2 linked regions of the Homo sapiens genome follow. The protein of the gene in region 1 purifies or fractionates together with the protein of each later gene. This does not show direct contact. Each region holds a gene or a part of one and is shown on either strand. Other genes may lie near its edges. The genes, in order: SPAG11A and MANBA.

Evidence for each region.
Region 2: the proteins of SPAG11A (region 1) and MANBA purify together in Homo sapiens (affinity purification with mass spectrometry, with the first as the bait; one large-scale study listed by BioGRID). This does not show direct contact.

Annotation. Positions count from the first base shown.
Region 1 is NC_000008.11:7,857,840-7,861,599, reverse strand, and holds the end of SPAG11A (sperm-associated antigen 11A isoform 3 precursor), read right to left. Parts: intron 2,370-3,760; coding exon of another isoform or gene 2,315-2,369; intron 1,254-2,314; coding exon of another isoform or gene 1,178-1,253; intron 955-1,177; coding exon 767-954; 3' UTR 657-766; downstream 1-656. UniProt on the Homo sapiens protein: Has antimicrobial activity against E.coli. Plays a role in the defense response in the male reproductive tract, contributing to sperm maturation, storage and protection.
Region 2 is NC_000004.12:102,722,969-102,726,792, reverse strand, and holds part of MANBA (beta-mannosidase precursor), read left to right. Parts: intron 1-109; coding exon 110-204; intron 205-2,825; coding exon 2,826-2,931; intron 2,932-3,751; coding exon 3,752-3,824.

The sequences.
Region 1 (3,760 bases):
AAGCAGGATCCAGAGAAAGGCAAAAGGCAGCTAAGCATTCAGGAATCTCCATGAACAGGGGCCCTGCCTTGCTCCAATTGCACAGAAATATGTTTTTTAGAAGGATCATAGAAGAATGAATGCTGGCTGATAGGCATACTGAGAATGCCATTTATGAATTGCTAGCCTGGGGGAAATGTGCTTCACCTGATGATTTTCATTTTTCTTTCATTCCTAAAATGGACCTGCTTACCCCCTATTATACACACTATCAGCTTGTTGTATTAATAAATTGAAATAGCCTAAGAGTAAATGCTTGAAAACAACACTATCCTACTGAAATGTGACCTGTTGGTGTTATTGCTTGAGGACGCATAAAGGGAAAAGGGATAAGGTGCATTACCATCTGGGTGAATAAGCAGGAGAAGGCTAGTGCTGGGTGTGTAAGAAAGAAGTCATCAGATGGAAAACAGAGCAGCAGATTGGTTGCATTTATGTCTCTCTGAAAATCAGTTTGGAGCTCGGTTTCTAGTCAGTTCCCATCTCCAGATACTTAAGAGATATTCCCTTGACTAGGAAAGGAAAGTGGAATATCACAAAATTCTGAGACCCCTTTGAAAAGGCAGTACATGGAGAAGTAAGGAAGTTAAAAAAATGTCTTTTATCAGCTCTTCACCTTTGGTGCTAAATTCATTCAACAAATATTTATTGAACACCTACTATAAGCCACACATTCCTTTAAGCCCTTGGGATACTTCAACATCCCTGCCTTCCGGGAGCTTATATTTTAGATCCCAGATCTGCCATCCATCTCTGGTTTCTCTTTTCCTTCTTCATCTGTATTTGATACGCAACACCTATTCCAGGGATCAGAGCTAATGTCACGCTTTTTCTCACCAGAATGGCAGAAAAAAAGTCTGCAGATCCCTTGCTGCATACGGCAGATGGTATTTCTAATTCCCAGTGGAACATCCCCTATGGATACAACAGAAGAGAGTTGACATTTAACTCATATAGTGCAGAGAATAGAAGATGAACCCAGCCCACTGCCAAGGGTTATATATTCTGACAAGGCTAAGTATTTTTGGACAAGCCCCAGTTTAACCGAACTTTGGCCTCTTAGCTTTAAAACAGGAACGATAATTTATATCTGAAATGTTGCCAGGAGGATGATAGGGTGTGTTTTATGAATGCTCACCTGGCCCATCTAGGCCCTAAAAAGCCCACGCAGATCTTAAATGAGGGTCCTCGAGCCTCCTGGTGAGAGATGTGCACTAGAAGGAAACAAAGGGAGTTTTGGAAAACAGAAGTGGTCCAGAATAGGACAGGTCTTGGTCTCTAAGGAAATTAGAGGTATTAACCCATTCTCAACTTATGGCCCAATTTTTAGTTTTATGTCCTACAACGAAAAGGAGAAAATAAAACCTCTCTCCTCACCAGGACCTGTGGGCTTGTAAGTCACAAATGACCACCTAAATTTTTATAACAACAGGACATTGGGCAAGAGATGGTTGAAAGAAAGATCTTACTTATGTCAGATCTGCAAATGCTACGTACGATGACTTTAAACAGCAGCAACAACAGCAGCAACAACAACAACAGCACAGTGTTGGTCTTGCGTGATTAGGAAAACACTCTTGCACAACATCCAACCTCCAAACGGGGTCTAATCCCTGATTCTGTATCATCTCAGCCCTGTCACAGCTTGGAGGAGACAGCAAAGTGAAGAAGGTGGGGGGTCCACCTTTAGTCAAGACAGAAGAGCCCCCAGCCTGGAAGCGTGGAGACCTGGATTCTGGTCTTACTTCTTCCAATATCTCATTATGTCTCCTTAGACAACTCATTTAACTGGTTACACTTCAGCTTGCCCATCTGTAAATGTGTTCTATGTGCAAGCAGGGGGAATATTATAAGTTTGAAGACCTACTATGACCATAAAGATTCATTGCACCATGGTAAATTAACACTTTCTCTGGACTTTGGTTTTCTTTTTGTAGAGCATGGGGCTGCTATAGACAATCTCTGATTCCCTTCCAGCTCTGACATTCATATGACTATAACTTCCTTCTGAAAACTTTTCTCAGACTGCAGTGAGTGCTTGCCACTTGTATCAGAGCAAGCATACCCCTTTGTCTTGTGTCAAGACCTTTATAACACTTATTTAGCTTTTAAAAAACTTCACAGGGGAGATCAAAATTGTCCAAGACTGAGCCCCACAGTGGCCCACCTGCATCCACTAACAACATACAGACACATCTACACACTGTCCATACAGACACACACATAAATGGAATTCCTGCACTACCTTCCCCAGGGCTAACCAGGAGACATTTACCTGAGTTTGTTTGGACCAAACAAAAGAGAACAGCAAACAGAAAAAAGACCTTCATGTTTTAAGGTCCGTTGAACCTCCCTGCCCTCCCGTGAAGGAGCACAAATATGATGAATGATGGAATGAAATGGAGCGGAGAAGGCACAAAATGGGACATTTATAGGTTTTTGGGAATACTGATCAGCATGAGCATATTTATCTGCTCTACTGAGTAAGGCTGTGGGCAGAAGGTTACTGACTACTCTTCCCTTTCTGCCTAAAAATAGACTGGCTTCCTGATATTCAGAGAAGCAGGGATCAACCAATAATTCCATATACGGATATTGAAGAGGAAAGTGAACCAACATTGAGGTGTGGCTACTTAGTGCCAAGCCCTGTGCTAGGTGCTAGAGACATGGTTGTGTAAAGATATATTTTCTGCCTTCAGAAAGCTGCGGTGTCCACCACAGTTGAGCAGATAATTAGCTTATTTCCCAGCAACATGACTCCCATCTACCAACAGAAACATAGGCCCACGTGCATTAGGAGACATGTGCACGAACGTTCATTGTAGCACATTTCCTTGCAGCCAAGAGAATGCAACCAAATAGTGTATTATGACAACAACAAAACACAATGTATTTCCACACCACAACAAGAATAGAAAAACAAGAAGATGTGTACAACAACGTGGATGAACCTCACAAACGCTATGCTGAAAGAAAAAAAAAACAGAGACAACGTACCACATTATTCCAAAAATTTGGCAAAATTCACCTATTTATGAAGAGCCAGGATATTGTCTACTTTGGAGGAAGAGGACATGCTCTTCTCTCATTTGATGAAGTTATCCGCTGTCGGAGGTGACAGTCTAGTGAGGGATGCAGAGAGCCCCCGGCAACCACAGGGCTGTGTCATCCTGGGCTGGAGGGAGGTTTGTGGGCTCTGGGGTGCTGGGAGTTGTGAAAACAGAATCTGCAAGGACACGATATTTTTGTGTGTGGGTTTATATAATGTGTGGTATTAAAACACACAGTGGATAAAGCTGCACATTTTGCCCCTATTTGATTTTAGTCCCAGGATCACTTAGATTTATTTCCCTTAAAATTCTCTTAAGCAAAAGGGGCAAGAGAGAAGGATGTCTTCTCTCCTATCCCCCTGGGCTTCATAACAATTGCTGTTAGCTTCTTATTAATCCTTCCAGAGGTGTCCCATGTGTATGGAAGCAGAGATGAATCCATACCCCATTTTTATGTAAGCAATAGCAGACTCTAGATATCATTCTGGACTTGCCTATATTACTTGTTATAGCTTGCAGAGCCTTGTTATTCTTCAGATTAGACACATCATATTTTCTGCAAGCTGTCTTCTGCGTTATTTAACCAGCCTCAACAACCATATCTCACCATGAGTCTTACCTAGACATGGATTTTGAAAAAGAGACATCAAGCAGTGGTCTTGGACTTTCTG
Region 2 (3,824 bases), on another chromosome or scaffold:
AATTTTTAGGTGATAAATAGCTGTTGTTAATAATTTATTTTATGTTTGTTTTATTAATTTATTTGTGCATATTTAACCATCTACCATAATTTTTACCTTGTATCAACAGGATTCTTACTACAGATTTAATGACCTTAACTACAGATGGGTCTCTTTGGATAACTGGACCTATAGCAAAGAATTTAAAATCCCCTTTGAAATTAGGTATGTATGTTTGTGGGTGTATTTTTATTATTATTTGAACTTTTCTTCTTTTTCTATCTGGGCAAAAATGTTGTGTTTTGTTTGTTTTTTTTTTGTTTTGTATGTTTTGTTTTGTTTTGTTTGTTTAGGTTACATATCTGAGAGTTAAGTAAGATGAAAGCCTTGTACTATAAAAGTGAATATATTATTTATGTTTTGTTTTGTATATGAGGATGGTGCTACTAATCAACAGTCACCAAATTGTGTCTTATGGAGTCATTTTTCCAGTGGTTATGCCCTATGTAGTGCTAACCAGCCATTGAGACTATGACCTTGACCTATACTATGTGGTGAAGCCAGGAGGTGAAGCACAGATACTGTTTTCAGTAATGTTCTGTTATTATAAGCAAATATTTCCATATGAGGTAGAATGTTACCCAAAGGTACCACCACTACTGCTAAATGAAAAAAAAAATCCTTCTGTCCCTTTTATGTGATTTTTTTTTTTTGGTAATTATTTACTAGTCTTTTAAAGGGGGGAAAAGGCCAGAATATTGTTATCAATATCATGGAGTTACTGCTGTGCTCCAGGCTTTTATTTACAGATAATATTTAGAATATCTTTCGTAATGGTTCTATTTCACCTTGAACTCAACATATCCAATTGATTTTCCCCCTTAAAACTAACTTTATATTCTAACAGCTTCATTGTTTTTCTTGATGTAACACCATTTTCCAGTCTATGTCTAAGGTGCTTTGGGCTTATTACATCTTTTCTTCATCTTCCTGTGTTCAGTCTGTTCTGGGTGGGTCTTGCAAATTTTTGTTTAACATTTCTCTTGGTTTGGCCCCTTCCATCTCATTTCCATCTTTCCATCTTTGCCTAGAAGAGTGCCAGGAAAGAGGCCAAAGCTGCCTAATCAAATTTCTTGCTTTGTTCTTTTATTCTCCAATCTTTTCAATTTAGAAACATTAGATTAATCATCACAGAATATTGATTGTGCCAAGATAGGTATTCGTTCAAGAATAGCAAGTGTCTATTTTACTTGGCAAATCAAGTATAAACTTCTCACTTGTCTGTGAAAATACAGCTGAAAGATGTCTGTCCCTGTAACACTGCCCGCACCTCTCTGCCCCTTGGATTTGTCCAGCTTTTTCCTCCTTAGCTCCCCAGCCCAAATTACACATATGAGTCGATTACCTAAAAGTAATTCATGCTGTCAGCACTTCCTTGTTTTGGTTTTGCTCTTTGCAGGGGTAAGGGGTTCCTGCAAAGAGCAAAGGGTATAAGGGGAGTAGAAATGCCTCCACCCAGTCATTTCTACCTAGTTTTAAAAAAAATACTTTATTGATATATAATTAACATATTGTACAATTCAGTCATTTAAGGTATATAATTCAATGGTTTTTAGTATACTTACAGTTACAAAACCATCACCACAATCAATTTTAGAACATTTTCCTCATCCCCCCACAAAAAGTTACACCCATTAGCAGTCATTTCCCATTGCCCACTCCTCCTGCCCCTGAATTCTTACCCCAGCCCTAGGAACCACTAATTTACTTTCTGTCCCTCTGGATTTCCTTGTTCTGGATACCTCATATAAATGGAATCATACAATATGTGGGCCTTTGTGACCGCCTCTTTCACTTAGCATAATAATGTTTTCAAAGTTCATCCATGTTGTAGCATGTATCAGTACTTCATTCCTTTTTATTGTTGAATAGTATTTTATTGTATGAATACAACACATTTTATTTATTCTTCTCTTCATTAAGTTCTTGTTTCCATTTTGAAATCTTTTCTTATGAGATAAACTCTGATAGCACTTGTAGTTGTTCAACAATATTGCCAGCCAGCCACCAAATGCCAACCAGATTGCAGACTCCTTAAGTACAGGCACTGTTATAGTTTCCTGTAAGGCTTAGCAGAGTGCTGGGTGCATAATATTCACTTATAGATGATAGTTTTCTAACGTGTTCTCTTAGACAGGGTCAGTAAATGTAGTTTGTGAGAACATTTTATGTCTATTATTTAACTTGGTTCTCATTTTTTTTTTTTTTTTTGAGACGGAATCTTGCAAGTGCAGTGGTGGGATATCCACTCACTGCAACCTCCGCCTCCTGGGTTCAAGTGTTTCTCCTGCCTCAGCCTCCCTAGTAGCTTGGATTACAGGCACCCGCCACCACGCCTGGCTAGTTTTTTGTAATTTTAGTAGAGACAGGGTTTCGCCATGTTGGCCAGGATGGTCTCGAACTCCTGACCTCAGGTGATCTGCCTGCCTAGGCTTCCCAAAGTGCTGGGATTACAGGCGTGAGCCACTGCTCCTGGCCTAACTTGGTTCTCATAATAGCTTTCTGAAGTATTAACTAGAAAAAGTCAATATATTTGGAAATTATAAGTTGTGCTCTTGGTTTTATGGTGATTTATTGATACATTATAGAGAAAGATAAGCTGGATCACTCAAAGGACGTAAGTATGTTTTAAAGCAGTACTTCTGAAAATGTCACTGGAAACTGCCTTTTAAGAACATATATTTTTTGTGGAATATTTATTTCTTTAGGCCTTAAATAATAAAAAAGAGACTTATCTAAGTTAATGCTTTACACATCTTGTTTTAAAAATCTTTTCTTTTTTTTAGCAAATGGCAAAAAGTAAATTTGATTCTTGAGGGAGTGGATACGGTTTCAAAAATCCTGTTCAATGAAGTCACTATTGGGGAAACAGACAATATGTTCAATAGATATGTAAGTATATAATGACATTAGGTTAAAAAAAATTTATGTGTGTTTATGTTAATTGCTTTTGTGAGTAGAGAAAAGTAAATGCATAATTGGCCATGTGACAAATATGAGCTCATTAAAGCACTGGATGAGTTACTTGATTTCTCAGTTGCCACATTTGTGGAATAATGGAAACCTTACAAACCCCATGGGGTTAGTGTGGGGATTTAGTAAGCTAATTGTATAAAATGTTGGCAAGTTCTTGGCACATAGGAAGTGTTCAAAACATGCCAATCCCTCCTCTGCTGATACAGTTTCATTGGACAAATGATTTTAAAATAAAATGTCATTTCCTTTCTGGAATAGTTATATTAAGAGATTATATGCTGATCTTCCTTTCCTTTCAAAGGTAGACTTTTCAAAACAAAAATAACTCATTACTTAGAAATGCATGCTGTTCATACCGGAGAGGCAGGTTGTCATGAAGTGTCTAGGAAACCCTTGGCAGTTCAAGGCCACATATAAGTAGACAGAGCAGACATTCCAGAGCTAAAGTTATTTTTTGCTCTATCCATTTCCCTAGGACCATCATTTTGCCAGGAAAAATAGAAGGAGAAGCCTAGAAACTTGGATTGGGTAGGAAAATATGCTTAGTTTTAACTAAAAGTGGGCAACTAAGTGATAGATACTACAGTGTTTCAGAGAAGTGTTCCCTCCTGCAAGGAGGCTAAACCTAGATCGGCATTATATTATGTGTCTTTCATACAAAATGCCTTTATCTAAAATTTTACACACAAGACTACTTCCACATCATGGGTTTGTCTGATTGTTCCCTTTAACTTAGAGCTTTGATATTACCAACGTGGTCAGGGACGTGAACTCCATTGAGCTGCGTTTCCAGTCAGCGGTGTTGTATG